2 separate regions of the Homo sapiens genome follow, and region 1 is linked to region 2. The links come from fine-mapping of genetic effects on gene expression. A gene starts in region 2. The other region holds a variant in brackets. All regions are shown on one strand. Distances are from middle to middle. Region 1 has its middle 27 kb from the start of SULT1C2. Region 2 holds the start of SULT1C2 (sulfotransferase family 1C member 2).

Region 1 (8,339 bases), 26 kb before region 2:
TTACACACAAACACACGTATTAGGTTGAACTATTTGAAATGGCCATTTTTGAGCTTAAAAAGGTCAGATATTGGCTGGCCTGTTCATGAAGTTATTGCCTCTCATGTCCTAGTTCACGTGTCTCAGGTTTTCTTTGAGATGCTGGGCTGGGACTGTGCCATCTGTGTTTCCACTGGGCCAGCTGGTGTGTCTTCTCTGAGTCTCTGCTCACAGGGAGACTGACAGACAAGAGGAGGAGTAGGGACTCGCTCCCTTTGCTGCCTTCTTGCTCCAGCGAGTGGTACCCCTGAGATAATTCACTTCCTGTAGCAGCAGCAGAGTCCAGTGTGCAGATCACTTCAGAGTCAGCGTCTTCACAGTGTCCTCAGGGACAGAGACCTGGCCAAGTTGTGCTCCTTCCCCAGGGGCGAGGGTTTTCTCCACACACCCCTCCTCCAAGATCCTATTTCAGTAATTCTCATCTTTCTGAAGTTGCTGCCTCTGTGATTCTTGAATGTTTGCTTTCTTTTTTGATACCAATTTCACATGACTCAACCTAGTATTTGCACATCTGAATTTAACAGTAAATCATAAATATAATGGTCACTCTAACAAAGGGAGAATATTGCTCCCTTTTCAGTGATAGACAGATGCTTGGCCTATCACTGAGATAGAGTAAGAGTAAGAGATTTATTGAGGGACAACGCTTGTGAGGGATAAATGAGCAGGGCTGTCAGAGCCTGGTGTAGTAGTAACCCTTGTGGAGAAGGGCAGGAAAGAGGGAAGGAAGGAAGACTGGGTAGGCAAAGTCTTAGACTGGTTTAGCTCTCAGAAAACTTTAGCAAAGCTGTCGGGTGGTTCTCCTGCCAAGCGCCCATCAGAGAAGATGCTCTTCCTGGGAAGGACAGGCCCAGGTGACGGGTGGAAGAACGTGGCCAGCTGACCTCAGGACCTCTAAACTTTCAGTGTGGCCTCAGGACCTCTAAACTTTGGTTTGGAGACTGAACCACCAGACTTTTGACAAGGTTCCACAGTTTCTGTTACAACTATTCAGTCAGTTTGTGAAGAATGTTGAACCCAGCTCCTTAGCTAACAAAACAATTTTATTTTCCGGGGGCATGCAGAGAGGAAAGGGTAATTTACAGTTCTTGCCTGAACAATTTGAGCAAGCTCAGGAAGTCATTTCTAGGGAAAAGCAGTGACAAGGGGAATAAAAACTGGAAGACAAGGTAATAAAAGTGCCCCTGTGTAGTATAGACTTTGTCTCTCTCTCTTTAGAGCTCCGTGTGGAAGGTCAGAGAAGAGTCAGCCATTTTCCTCCCTAGTCTTCATCAAATCTCTTATTCTGTGCTGCTGAGAAGTAATCCTTCCACTCTCCAACGGTCCCTGAAAAGCAATGCAATCGTGCTTGAGAGATTGGACGGGAAGTCTATTCTGAATGCTTTTTCCATAAAGTGAAACTTTAGAGATAATTAAAAAGTATGAATTCGTATTACAGGTACACATCACAGTCTATTTTCTTTCAAAGACGTATTAATATTTTGAGAAAACCTCAGAATTATTGGCAGCATCATGTTAGTTAAAAAGGTAATAAGGCTCGTCATGGTGGCTCATGCCTGAAATCCAAGCACTTTGGAGGTCAAGGTGGGAGAATTGCTTGAGCCCAGAAGTTCAAGACCAGCCTGGGCAACACAGTGAGACCCTGTCTATACAAAAAATAAAAAATTTAGCTGGGCATGGTGGTGTGTACCTGTGGTCTCAGCTACTTGGGAGGCTGGAGGTGGGAGGATTGCTTTAACACAGGAATTGAAGGTTGCAGTGAGCTGTGATTGCACCACTGCACTCCATCCTGGGTGACAGTGAGTTTCTATCTTTTAAAAAAATGAATAAAAAGGAAAAAACGTATTAATATTCTTTCCCAAAATACTAATTATGTAATAATATGGTTCTCAAGGAAATTCATGATGGTTGGCAGGCAGCTTTCCTCATAAATGGGGAGATGGAGTGGTCCATGATGTCACAGGTTATCATTACATAGTTGGTCATCTGGTTTTTCTTCTTACTTTCAAAAGATGTGTGCTGAACAATTCTTTTGACAGGATCTTCATCTAGTTTATTCCCCATAAATTCCATTATCCTTTTGAACTTCATGTTCTGGGTTCTGTTGAGTGGGGAAGGGCAACAAGTAGTCATTAGGGGATTTGGGGGAGAGAACAAGGGAAAGCAAGGAAAACAAATCTGGGAAAAGTTATTTCAATTCTCTTCATCTCGGTATTTGTGATATTGTTGATCTTGCTCACCTAAACTTTACCTGTTGTGCCCAGCACTGCAGCTGTGTCTCTGATGTGAGAAACTTCCCACCAGCAGAAGGATCTGGAACTCAAGGCCTGCTGTGCAGATTCTTTTGTCCCATGAGGTGATCACTTGATGTGGTGTTCTCCCCCTTCCCCTGAGAGCTGGACTTCAGTGATTATTACTGCTCTTCTGGGTCTAGCCACTCAGCGGGGCTACCAGGCTCTTGTCTGGTGCTGGGGAATATCTACAAAGAGTCCCGTGATGCGACCCATATTGAGGTCTCCCAGCAGTGGATACCAGCACCTGCAGGGGTGGAAGTGGCAGGGAAGTGATGTAGACTCTGAGATTCCTTGGCTGTAGAATACGTTTAGTGTGCAGGCTTTCTCAAATGTTGGTTATGCTAGCAGTGAAGTTGTCATGTGGGCAGACTCAGGACCAGGGTGTTGCAGGCAGTGGTGTTAGCTGTTGTTTTCTTCTTCCTGGCAGCAGTGTTTTTCTGCCAAGGGTTGCTGTAATGGTCTGAGTTGAATGGCTTCCAGCCCTGAGGTGGAATTTGCAAGAGAGCTCCTGCTGCAGTAGTAGTAGTGGGACATAAGCTTGCTCTAAGTTGACCAGGGTAAGTATTCTTGTTCTCAGCTGATGGGTGGGACCATAAAGCTCCCAAGAGTTTATGTCTTTTGTGTTATGCTACCAGGGCCAGTAGAGAAATACCATCGGTTAGGGGCAGGGTTAGGCGGGTCTGAGCTTTTGGGCGGGGCTTGCCGCGGCCACTGTGGGGGATGCAGGGGTGGTTCTCAGGCTAATGGGATTATGATCCAGAGGGGAGTATGGCTTTCTCTGCTGTGCAGCAGAATTCGTCGGGGGAGTGGGGGATAGCCGGTAGCGAGAGGCCTCACCCAGCTCCTACACAGTTGGTGAGGTCAGTCTCACTCCTGCAGCGCACTGCTAACAGCGCCTAGTTTAGATCCAGGCAGCCTGCGCACAGAACTCAGACCTGGCTCAGTCCATAGGCTTCCCTGCTGAGAAAGCAAGCACAGCTTTCCTCCTTCTTTTTTATAAATTGACCTTCATTAATACCTCACATAGTTAGGCCATGGTATTCTTTTGTTGAAAATCTATGTTAAGTATCCTCTTGAGGGGACAGGAAATGCTAGAAGTTATCTGCACTTCCCCTGTGTTTTTAGTATTCCCCGTTTCGAAATGATTGGCCAGCTCGTCCTTTGATGAGTGGGAGAGGTGGGAAGAAGGAGAGGGAAAGGTGTGGCTGGGTGAAGAGAGGCAGGAAAGGGCAAGGCTGAATGGCCACAGACCAATCTCTATTCTGTGACCCTATTGATGCCCTTGACTAGGCATGTTCCCAGACCAAACCGAGGGTCAGGCTGCTTATTCTCACGGCCCAGTAACGAGATGCAGATGAACTAGGAAAGAAGAGAGTTTAATTCTGTAACTGGGTACAAGG[A/T]GAAGGCCTGGAAAATATTGCCAGATCAGCTCAAAATTACAGTTTTTCAGGGATTATATACCTTCTAAGCTATATGTTTACATTTAAGTGTGTATTCATCCAAAGACATAAGTGATTAACGTCTTCTAATCTATAGTTACGGTCTGAGTTTCGAAGAAGACCTTCCTCTGGAGCCTCAGTAAATTTACTTAATCTAGATGGGTCCAGGTGCTAGGGTAATTACCCTTATCTTGTCTCCTGCTAAATTATGGAGGTTTATGGAGTTCCTTTAGACCCACAATAAAACTTGTTTGTGGAGGTCTGGGGAGTTTCTTTAGACCCCCAATAAAAACTTGTTTAATCTTTATGGGTCCTGTTAAGAATTCCTTCATTATTTGTCATTCCTGTCAAGGCCCAGGAAAGGCCCAGGCAAAACTCTTTGTGGGCTTTTGTTACATTCCAGCCTTTGTATAAGGGCACTGGTTCTTTCAGCTTTTAATATTTAACCACTCAGTCAGTGCTGAAACAGTTGTTATGGAGGCCTGCCTCTTCAGCTGTTAATGAGACCTGGCCTGCCACAGGCAGAGTGGAGAATACCACACCAGTCACTCTGACAAACACTTGACAACCTGACCAGCATTGGGCTAATCTCTGAGATCTCTGACTTGCAGCAACCTGCTTGGGTGAGTCTACTTCTGTATTATTAAGACATTAACTAAATTGTGTCCTTTGGGTCAGATATATTGCTGCATATGAGAAACACTCCTGATAGAGAATCTGTTAAATGTCTCAGGCCACATTTTTCTTTTCAGAGAGATCTGTGAATCTCTGATAGTTTGCTTGCTGATCTGAGGCTTGGTCATCTTAATCTTTTCCTATTACTCTTCCTCTTGTCATGAATCTCCAGTGGTACTTAAAGAGTATACTAGGCACTAAAGAACCGTGTCTGCAATTAAAATGAAAAAGACCAGGCACAGTGTCCCATGCCTGTAATCCCAGTGCTTTGGGAAACCAAGGTGGCAGGATTGTTTGAGGCCAGGAGTTTTAGACCAGCCTGGGCAACATAGTGAGACCCCGTCTCTACAAAGAGTAAGAAATAAAAATTAGCCAGGTATGATGGTACACATCTGTGGTGCTAGCAACTCAGGATGCTGAGCTGGGAGGATTGCTTGAACCTAGGAGGTTGAGGCTGCAGTGAGCCACGATTGTGACACTACACTCCAGCCTGGGCAACAGAGTGAGACTTTGTCTTAAATTTTTTTTTTTTTTTAATAAGGAGTGAGTATCCTGCTGGTCAACCTGAAATTCTACTTCCTGCTTTTGTAACCAGGTGTGAGAGGCTGAGGGAGGAGGTTCCCTTAACCCTTAACCCTGGAAGTCTCCACACCCATGAACAATTCCCAGCCCTCTCAACTGGAACAGTGTGGCTCCCACCCTTGTGCTGTGTGTATGGCACAGACACAGTAGACATATTGACATGGTAGTCTGAGTGTTTCACCATCTATCTTGGAGCCTGCAGGGGCTTCCTGATGCTCCTAGGATAAAGTCTAACATTCTGCCATGACCATCAAGGCCCCATGTGACATGCCCGGCTCTCTTTGGGGCCCCATTTTGTCAGTTCTCCCTGAGCTTGTAGCTCTTCCCCTCATAGCCCTTCCTTCTTGCCCTGAGACAGGCCCGCCTCACCAAGCCTGCTCCTGGGTCTCCTTCTCTCTGCCCAGTCTCTTGCCTAGTTAAAGCCAGCACATGCTTCACACCTAGGAAGGACCATGTCCTCTCAGGAAAGCTGTGCCTCAGGCCCCAGTCTCAGCTGATCTGCTCTGGCCTCTCGAAGCCTGAAACCATCTCACATGGCACTCTCCTCGGTTGGTGACATGTGTCACGACTTAGTGGACTTTTGCTTCACATGCTAGACCATGAAATCCATAGGGGAAGGGCTTTGCTCACCACTGTATCCCCATCATTCACACAGTACCTGGCACATAGTACGTGTACTATTGAGAATGAATGAATGACTGAATGAAGAATGGCTGTAACTCTTAAGAGGAAAGAAACATAAAATCATTTCTTTTTAGCTGTTGGTACATACTTATGGTGCAGGTATATGTGGGGAGAGGGTGTGCTAGGGCTCTTTGCATCTTAGCTTGAATACTGAATTTCCTGGGGCTAGTTCTATTTCTTGCATCTCTGTTCTTGTTAGATTGGTCCCTCCTTGCTTGAGTTGTGGACAACTGGTCGAGTTGCAAAACACTGTGCTTTACCATCATGGTGGCTTTTCATTCTTGACCCTGATTCTAACGTGTTCCAGTTGCCATGTAGTTTCTACTGGTTGTTGGAAGCCTGAATTTAAATGTGATTTGTGGGTGTTTGAAAAACTCACAGTCCCATGTAATCTCACAGCATTAAACTTCAAAGCTCTTTGAAATACTAAACCTCAAAGTCGGCATGTTTAGGTCCTAGCTAGTGAAGAAAAGGAAGCAGAAAGAGTTTAAACCAAATGACAAAGATTATTTTCTTGACCAAACTTTAGTAAGGTTCTTAACATATCTCCTATACCCCTCTGTGTAATTCTTTGAAAAATCCAGTTTTTGCAAGAAAACTATTAAGTCAATATAGCAGGAACTCCCTACCCCCAACATCTGATCAGGTTCTTCATCCTCCACCACCACCCAGGTAATATCTAATCACCCTGGCCTATCTTTAGCAAGAATCCTGTTGGATCACTGTAGCCAGAACCCATCCCTTTCCTTACCGATGATGTTTCCTCTTAGGGATTTTCTATCCCTCCTTCTCCACCCTTCTGCATGGCTATAAATTCCCACTTGCCCACGTTATATTAAGAGTCGAACACAATCTCTTCCACTGCCAGACTCCATTGCCATGGTCCCTACACCTATGGAGATGGTCCTGACTAAAATCTGCCCTACTGTGCTTTAATAAGTGTCATTGAATAATTTTTTCTTTAACAGGACCAACCAATCAACCAACCAACCACCAACCCACCAACCAACCAACCAATTAAAAGTCAGAACTCATTTTATCATTTGGGATCATAGCTGACCCTGGAGTGAATGTTTTTTTTTTTTTTTAACTATCTTTATATTAGTCCATTTTCATGCTGCTGATAAAGACATACCCAAGACTGGGTAAATTATAAAGAAAAGAGTTCAATGGACTTACATTTCCACATGGCTTTGGAGGCCTCACAAGCATGCAAGTACTAAAGAACTGTGTCTGCAATTAAAATGAAAAAGACCAGGCACAGTGGCTCATGCCTGTAATCCCAGTGCTTTGGGAAACTGAGGCGGGAGGATTCACAAGCATGGTGGAAGGTGAAAGGCATGTCTTACGTGGCAGCAGACAAGAGAAAATGAGAGCCAATTGAAAGGGGAAACCCCTAATAAAATCATCAGATCTCATGAGGCATATTCACTACCAAGAGAATGGTATGGGGGAACTGCACCATGATTCAATTATCTCCCACCAGTCCCCTCCCCCCAACACGTGGGAATTATGGGAGCTACAATTCAAGGTGAGATTTATGTGAGGACACAGCCAAACCATATCATTCCTCCCCTGCCCCCTCCCATATCTCATGTCCTCACATTTCAAAACCAATCATGCCTTCCCAACAGTTCCCCAAAGTCTTAACTCATTTCAGCATTAACTCAAAAGTCCATAGTCCAAAGCCTCATCTGAGACAAGGCAAGTACCTTTCACCCATGAGCCTTAAAATCAAAAGCAAGTTAGTTACTTCCTAGCTACAGTAGGGGTACAGGCATTGGGTAAATATAGCCATTCCAAATTGGAGAAATTGGCTAAAACAAAGGGGCTATAGGCTGCATGCAAGTCTGAAATCCAGTGGGGCAGTCAAATCTTAAAGCTCCAAAATGGTCTCCTTTGACTACATGTTCACATCCAGGTCACTCTGATGCAAGAGGTGGGTTCCCGTGGTCTTGGGCAGCTCTGCCCCTTTGGCTTTGCAGGGTACAGCCTCCCTCCAGGCTGCTTTCACAGGCTGACATTGAGTTCCTGTGGTTTTTCCAGGTGCACTGTGCAAGCTGTCGGTGGACCTACCATTCTAGGGTCTGGAGGATGGTGGCCCTCTTCTCATGGTTCCACTAGGCAGTGTCCCAGTGGGGACTCTTTGTGGGGGCTTCAACCCCACATTTCTCTTCTGCACTGGCCTAGAGGTGGTTCTCCATGAGGAGCCCTCCCCTGCAGCAAACTTCTGCCTGGACATCCAGGCATTTCCATACATCCTCTGAAATCTAGGTGGAGGTTCCCAAACCTCAGTTATTGACTTCCATGCACCTGCAGGCTCAATGCCACATGGAAGCTGCCAAGGCTTGGGGCTTGCACCCTCTGAAGCCATGGCCTGAGCTCTACGTTGGCCTCTTTCAGCCATGGCCGGAGTGGCTGAGATACAGGACACCAAGTCCCTAGGGTGCACACAGCAGGGAAGGCCCTGGGCCCAGCCCATGGAACCATCTTTTCCTCCTAGGCCTCTGGGCCTATGATGGGAGGGGCTGCCATGAAGGTCTCTGACATGGCCTGGAGATATTTTCCCCATTGTCTTGGTGATTAAGATTTGGCTCCTTGTTATTTACGCAAATTTCTGTAGCTG
Region 2 (8,339 bases):
CACCATTTTATTCTCTGTCTCTATGGACTCTATGTACCTTATTTAGGTGGAATCACATAACATCTGTCCTTTTGTGAATGTCTTATTAATTAAGCTTAATCTTATGCTTAATTGAAAGCTTGATCCAAAGCTTAATCTCTTCAAGGCTCATCCGTGTTGTAGCATGTGATGGGATTTCCTTCCCTAGTTCACTGTAGATATACACCTTTCCTTTTTTTTTTTTTTTTTTTTTTTTGAGACAGAGTCTCACTCTGTTTATCCAGGCTGGAGTGCAATGGCATGATCTCTGCTCACTGCAACCTCTGCCTCCAGGGTTCAAGCGATTCTCATGCCTCAGCCTCCTGAGTGGCTGGGATTACAGGTGCCCGCCACCATGCCTGACTAATTTTTGTGACTTTAGTAGGGACCGAGTTTCGCCATGTTGGCCAGGCTGGTCTTGAGCTCCTGACCTCAGGTGATCCACCCACCTTGGCTTCCCAAAGTGTTGGGATTACAGGCGTGAGCCACCGTGCCCAGCCTATATTTTGTTTACCCAGTCATCTATTGATGGAAACTTTTGGCTGTCATGAATTAGGTCTCTGTGAACATCGATGTACAAATATCTCTTTGAATTATTGCTTTCAATTTTTTTTGGTATATACTCAGAAGTGAAATTGCTAGATCATCTGGTAATTCTATGTTTAATATTTTGAGGAAATGTTACAGCATCTTCCACAGCAGCTGCACCATTTTACATTTTTACAAGCAGTGCACAAGGGTTCCAGTTTTTCCAAATTGTCATCAACACTTGTTGTTTCTTGTGTTTTTTGTTTGTTTTTTTGGTTTTGATAATAGCCATCCTAATGGTTGTGCGGTGATAAATAGCTCATTGGGGTTTTGATTTGCATTCCCCTAATGTCTAATGATGTTGAGCATCTTCTCATGCTTATTGGCCATTTGTGGGAGAAATATCTGCTTTGCCCAGTTTTGCATTGTGTGTGTGTGTGTGTGTGTGTGTGTGTGTGTGTGTGTGTGTGTGTGTTGTCATTGTTGTATTGAGGGAAGACTTTTAAATGCACCAAAAGGAGAAAGCAGAAGATGTAAATCACTGTTACTCAAGGATAACTGGCTACTGGGGTTCCAGAAGACATTTATTACTACTACTACTAATGAAATAGTAGTTAAAAGCTAACATTTATCGAACACGTCAATTTGCCAACGCTGGGCTGAGGCCTTGTATACATTAATTTATTTTAACTTTTGCTGAAAATGAGTGATAGAACTTCGGAGCTGAAAGGGTCCTTACAGAAAATGTAACAGTACATGCTTGCTAGAGGTTGAATAAAATAATCTGGCCCAGCTGCTTCATGGAATGGATGAGAAAACTAGGTGCCCAGATTAGTGAGGGCAGTTTTCATGGTGGCTTCTGCTTCCAGATTGAGCTGAGCCCTTTAAGATGAAGACAATTTTTGGAAAACGAAAGACAAATTATTTATGAAAATTTTCAAATATGAGAAGCAGTTGTATTTATAATACATCAAAGAAGGTGGAGTTTGGACAGTACTCCTGAGATAATGGTATGATCAAATTCAGGAGAGGAGGGATAAGAACAAACATTTCTTGCAGGCCTTCTATGTTAGGTCCTTCGTGGACTTTTCTTTTTCTTTCTTAATTCATATGACAATTTTATTAGGAAGGAATAATTATCACCCTCATAAATGTGAGGAAGCTGAGAGTCACACGATCAATAACTTGCCCAGGATCGCAGCCAACATCTGTATACGAATCCTATGTTCCTTCTTTAAAAATTGCCTCTTGTTTTTTTTTATTGTGAATTTAAAGTTATACATTGCAGAAACTTTGGAAACAGTCCAAATGTACAAGGAAAACATCTATCACACAAGAGTTGTTATTATTTTGATGTATTTCTATCTGTCTTTTTCAAATGTATATTGTTGTAGGCAGAATAATGGCCCTAAAGATGTCCACGTCCTAATTCCTAATACATTACATTGTGTGGCAAAGGGCTTTGCAGATGGAATTTAGGTTAAGAACCTTAAGGCAATGAGCATGTCCTGTATTATCCCGGTGGGTCTAATGTGACCACAAGGGCACTTAAAAGTGGACAAGGGTGTAGAAGAGCAGTCAGAGAGTCGTGTGGCAGAAGAAGTGGCTGGAGAGTTTGGAAGCATGAGAATGACTCAACTTGCCATTGATGGCTTAGAGACAAAGGGGAACACAAGACAAGGCATGACCTCCAGAAGCTGAGAATGAACCTCAGCCAACAAGCAAATGGGACCTCCATCCTACAGCCACATGAATCTGAATTCTGCCAACAACCAGAATGAGCTTGGAAGGGATTCTTCTTCAGACCCTCCAGAAGGGAACGCAGCCCTGCCAACACCTTGATTTTACCCAGAGACACCTGTTTGGACTTCTGACTTACAGAGGTGTGAGATAATAAACTTGTATTGTCTTAAGCTGCTAAATTTTTGATAATTTGTTATGGCAGTGATAGTGATAGAAAACTGTTTATACATAGTTATGAACAAAAAGTATACATATATATAAACATAAAACTACAAAACACTTTTTGGATACTGCTGTGGTTTGGATGTGGTTAGTCCCCACCAAAACTCTCTGTTGAAGTTTAACTGCCAGTGTGGCAGTGCTAGGACACGGGGTCTTGTGAGAGGTGTTTGGGCCATAAGGGTGGATTCCACATGAGTAGATTAATGCCATCTCCCAGAAGTGGGTGAGTTTGGTCCCTTTATACATGCCTGCTTGCCTTTCTATTTCTTCACCATGTCTTGATGCAGCATGGCCCTCACGAGAAGCTGAGCAGATGCCAGCACCATGCTCTTGGACTTTTCAGCCACCAGAATCATGATTCAAAATAAACCTCTTATATTTATAAATTACCCAGCCTCAGGTATTTTGTTATAGCAACATAAAATGGACTAAGACGGACATTATCGTGGTTTGAATTGTGTCTCTCTAAGTTCATATGTTGAAGTCCTAATTCATAGTATATTAGCATGTGGCTGTATTTGGAGATAATGTCTTTAAATAGGTGATTAAGTTAAAATGAGGCTGCTAGGATGAGACCTATTCCAATCTGGTATCCTTGTAATGAGAGGAGATTAGGACACACAAGGCAACACCAGGGATGTGTGCACATGGAGGAAAGACCATGTAAGGACACAGTGAGAAGGTCCTCCATAGGGTGGGGGTGAGGGGATGGTGAGTCCAATTCTGGGGTTGAGTCTGATGTATTTATGGGACTTCCCAATGTACACCTGTAGGCAGGTGTACATGTGAGCTTAGGGCTCTGGCCTTGAACTAATGCCCTGAGAATAATCCACGCAACACATTGACCAACTCTGTGGTAGGCGTTGTGCTCTGGGCAGGTAGCTGATGACCGAGGGCCTGGGCACAGCTGTGAACATGTGTGGAAGGGCACCTGCTGCTGCTGAGGACCAGGGCGGTTAAGGGCTTGGCTGTCCAGTGAACTATGGATCCCACTGTATTGCTCTTGTTGGAGGCCTGCACGGGGAGTGATAGAACCTGGCTAAAGCTGGGAGAAGGAGATGCAGCAAGAGATTGAGGCAGCTGGGTAGTGCAGTGGGAGCAGAGGGATCTGCCAGTTCCCACAGGAGAAGTCCCAAGTCCTTCTCACCCTCCCCAGGCCCCTCATTGCTGGGCCACATCAGCACATGGTTCCTGCCCTTGGAGAGTCAGGCATGTAGACACATACATTTCCCCTTGAGCAGCCAGCAGGGACATTTTCATCATATCAGGCCAGATCACTATGGCCTCCTTTGTGGAGGCATCCCTGACTCTGTAAACAGAAGTAATCACTCCTTTCCATGGGATCCTATAGTATTTTGTGTGCAAATTTTATAGGTCTTACTCCACGTCCTACAATTACTTGCTTATAAGTCTGGACCCTTGGAGCACAGGATCTGGTTCAGTCCCCTTGCAGGCCCAGCATGTGTCTTAGTCAATGGCTGGCATAAGAGGAGGGCTGTCATGGAAGAAGAAATAGTCTTGGCCAGAGAAGTTGAGCTGGCCCTGGAGGAGGATGGGACAGGGAGGGTATTTGGGAAAAGATCAGGGTGGGAGACAGAGATAGTATTACAGGAGAGAGAGCTTTTGGAGGTGATTTGAGGGGGGTCCTGAATTTCTAGGTCTGAATTTTTAGGCTGGAGGCTGTTAACAAAACTCTTTTATATTATTTTATCAGATTCTTAGGATCTTTTCTGGTTTGAATAAATGCATCTGTAAAGCCACACCTATGTGGCTAAAGGTTAAAAAATAAATTAACGAGTTAGGTACAGAATTTCTTTTAAGCCATATTCTTACCTTCAAGTTCCAGCTGAAAGTCAGCAGCTCAAAGGCCCACTCAAGGGTCAGTGGGCACGGAAAGGACTTTCACAGGAAGCAGACGGCAATTGCAGAGGCTCAAATTACTACTGTGTCAGAGTTACGGGGGCGCTCAGCAGGTAGCCAGCACTTTGGGAGGCTCTCAGCTTCAGTGTGGGAAGTTGAAGCTTTTACTGGAAGAATCCGGATTGAACAGAAACAAACCCTGTGACCTGGCCCTGGGAGGGAGAACTTCTCACTGTACCATGATCACTCATGTGACCCTGACTGCTGTGCAAATACCAACTCCCTCTAGTTCATATGAACTAAGGGCACACTCTACTCCTCCTCTCGGTCACCAGCTAGAGTTTTTCACATCTTTCCTGGCCCTCAGCTGCCTGGCCCCTCCCTCCTCCCACTGGCCTCGAAGCTTAAACAGGTGGGGGCTGGGGGGAAATGGAAGGTTGGCTCTAGGACCAGATGCATCAGGCTTCAGGTAGGCTCCTGCTTATTTGGTGAACTCCCTTTTCCTTCCTCCTTAGCCTGAGATTTAATTTCTGCATCTATGAAGTGTGGGTAATACTGCCTGTCTCCAATCCATGCTTTAAGATTGAAAGCAACAATGTTGATGAATACACTTTGCAGAGCAAATAGTAAGTGCTTAAAACTGCTGGTTCTTCTTTCCTTTCTTCCCAAGTTGTATTCATCCACACCGAAAATGCAGAGAGGATAGAACAAAAGTCTAGAGCTTAGGTGTGTACTTATTTTTTCTTTGCCTTATTGTACAAAAGGTACACTTTAGTGGAGGCAGATTATATTCCATGGTGTCTTTGGTTACCTGGGAAATTAAATGGATCAAGTGTTAATGATCTCTGAACTGCTACTCTTCTGCCAGCCCCAACCTTGTATCTACCCCAGTGCTTTCCTTTCTGGAATTGAAGCATAATTCTGCACCCCATCTGCCCTTCTTGCCAAAGCTTTCCTTGTCTTCTTTGACCCTGAACCTCCTAATGCTTCTTTGCCGACACTTCTTCTTCCTCCTTGTTTCCAAAGGGCTCTTTTTTTCCCAATAAATTGAACTTTCTTTTTCTTTCTTTTTTCTTTTTTTTTTTTTTTTTGAGATGGTGTTTCACTCCTGTTGCCCAGGCTGGAGTGCAATGGTGCAATCTTGGCTCACTGCAACCTCCGCCTCCCGGGTTCAAGCGATTCTCCTGTCTCAGCCTCCTGAGTAGCTGGGACTACAGGCGTGCGCCACCATGCCCAGCTAATTTTTTTTTGGTATTTTTAGTAGAGACGGGGTCTCACCATGTTGGCCAGGCTAGTCTCCAACTCCTGCTCCCAGGTGATCTGCCCGCCTTGACCTCCCAAAGTGCTGGGATTACAGGCATAAGCCACTGCGCCCGGCTGAACTTTATTTTTCTACTTCTGCTCTCTTTCCAGTTCCACTTATCCCAGTGCTGTCAATTTTCAGCCCCATAGGGCTGATTCACAGTTCTTAGTGCAACCTCACATTTTCTCTGCAGTTAAAGTCCCTAAGTCTACTAAAGTGTCTGCCAGTATCGGTGCCATGCTGCGCTGCATGCTGCATCTCCCTGCCTTTGCTGTCTGCATGGGTCACAGTCTCTACAATCCCAGAATTTACAGTTAGTAACCACTGCTAGTATCTGCTTCCTCCACATTTGTGGAGGATGAACTGGGATGTTGCACAATCTTCTAGCAGTCTCCTTATTTCTGGTCTCTTCCCTACTAGTCTCTCATACTTTCAGCATATAAATTAAGCTCAGCTCAGATCAGGCTATCCTTTGGTTGTTTATGGCTCAAATTCTGGGTGCTTCCACTTGGAATTCAAGACCTTCTAAATTCATTAATTCTTATTTTTTATAAGACAGGGTCTCACTCTTTTGCCCAGGCTGGAGTGAAGAGGCATGATCATAGCTCACTGCAGCCTTGACCTCCTGAGCTCAAGTGATCCTCCTACTTCAAGCCTCCTGAATGCCTGGCTCAAGGCCTTCTTTAATATAACACCATCCCCACCATGGGCCCCACACACCAGGTGAACTGAATGACTTACTGTCCCCTGTATGCATCCTATAATTTCCTGCCTCCCTGGTTTACTCCTGTTTCTCCCTGCCAAAAATGCTCTTACTCTTAGCCTGGCACACTGCTGTGCACCTGTAATCCCAGTTACTTGAGTCCAGCCTGGGCAACATAGTGAGATCCCATCTCTAAAAAAATGTTCTTACTCTGTTTCCATAGAGTCAGATTCTTCAGCTTTGAACCCATCTTTTCCTTGAAGCCTTTCCTTAGGTTATAGCTGGAAGCAATCTCTCTGTGAACTACCATATGCTTTTTTAAAAATAAGTTTTATTGAGATCAAATTCACATACTGTGCACTTCACCCAAGTGTACAGTTCAATGTTTTTAGTTGTGCAACCATCATCACACTCAATTTTGGAATATTTTCATCACCCCAAAATGAAACCCCATATTTATTAATAGTCATGCCTAATTCCTCCTACCACCATCTCCAGCTTTAAGAAACCAAAATCTACTTTGTGTCTCTATAGACTTGTCTATTGTGGACATTTTATATAAATTGAATCATACAATGTGTGGTCCATAGGATTAATTTGGCCTTCTCTTACAGCAATTTTCTGTTTTTACTTGAATGAGGAAATTAACTACCCTCCCAGTGTGTCGATTGGGGCCTATCTCTAAGACCACCTGTACCATGTACCCATTCAACTGGATTAATATACTTACTGAATGAATAAACAAATGAATGAAACAAAAACTTTAGTTTTCACCGGGACTGGGACTTGAATGAGGGAACTAAGGTGCAAAATGTAAGGAGACACTCGCTCCAGGGCCGTGCAAGAGAATGAATGCCTCCTTCAATGCTATGCCCTTACCTCACCCTAGTCCCTGCCCTGGTTTATACATAATCCATCCACATGGATTTTTCCCTGATTTGTGATTCATGTACCTCTGGAACTTTCTGAGCTGTTTCTGAGAACCAGGTAAAGTGTGCCTTCTTTGGAGTTAGGGGAATGTCTACACGGCAGCCTCTGTCCCGCTAGAAAGACCAAAGTCACTATTGCCTCCTGGAAGAGTTTTGTGAGGGATCTGATCATGGTTTTCAATTGGGAAAAGTAGCCAAGCTGCTTTGTGCCACTGGCACAAAGTGGAAGGTGCCTGTGTTCCAGCAGGCTGGCTTTGAGGAGCAGCGGGAGCAAAGGTCTCCCCCCGGGACATAGCCATTCCTTCTGGGTGCTATGTCCTACAGCTGCAACTGCTTCAGGCAAGCTTTGTAACACTTGCCTCAGTCACACAGATCCTTTGACCAAGTCCACAAGAGAGCAGATGAGCTCTTTCCTGCAGGTGGTGAGGTACTAGGTGGGCAAACTCTGACTCCTTTGTAACTTCATGGATCTCGCTTATTATCCAGGAAACTGGCTCAGCATTCTCCTGGCTTGTGCTCCCTTGTCGTTTAAATTTTTTTCCTTCTGTTTTTGACCATCCGCAATTCACATAATTACATGTCTCTCAAGCCATTTTTCTTACTTTGCAATGCTCATTGGCTTTAATTCTCCCTTTCTCTTTTCTTGTCTAATTCTTGTCCAGTCACCCAGGGAAAGATGGAACAAGTCTTTTTCTCCCTCACTTTCTACTATCTCCTTTCTTTCATATTCTCCTACTCATCCTTCCATTTGCTGACCCTGGCTCCACTCCAGCCATGGCTGATGGCTGTTGGCATGGGGATGTGGCACATTTGTATTAAGGAAGAGAGAAATCCTGAGACATGATTGACACAAAGTTAGAAATAATGAAGAATCACATTGCATTAGTTTCCCAGGGTTTCTGTACAAATTGGGTGGCTTAAGCTACAGAAACTTCTTGTTTCACAGCTCTGATAAGTAAAAGTCCAAGATCAAGGTGCAGTATGGGCTTCTTCTCGAGCTGTGAGGGAGAATCTGTTTCATGCTTCTTTCCCA

What was found. PIP is the estimated chance that this variant, and not a neighbour inherited with it, causes the effect.
Region 1: its variant is fine-mapped to the expression of SULT1C2 in transverse colon (GTEx, PIP 0.99).

Annotation. Positions count from the first base shown.
Region 1 is chr2:108,311,526-108,319,864 of GRCh38, reverse strand. It overlaps the pseudogene SULT1C2P2. Among named protein-coding and RNA genes, the nearest start is that of SULT1C2, 27 kb to the right of the region's middle. The variant A/T (reference allele first, on the strand shown) is at 3,734.
Region 2 is chr2:108,285,076-108,293,414 of GRCh38, reverse strand. SULT1C2 (sulfotransferase family 1C member 2) reads right to left here and starts at 4,520. Exons shown (of 8, transcript NM_001056.4): 1 at 4,345-4,520.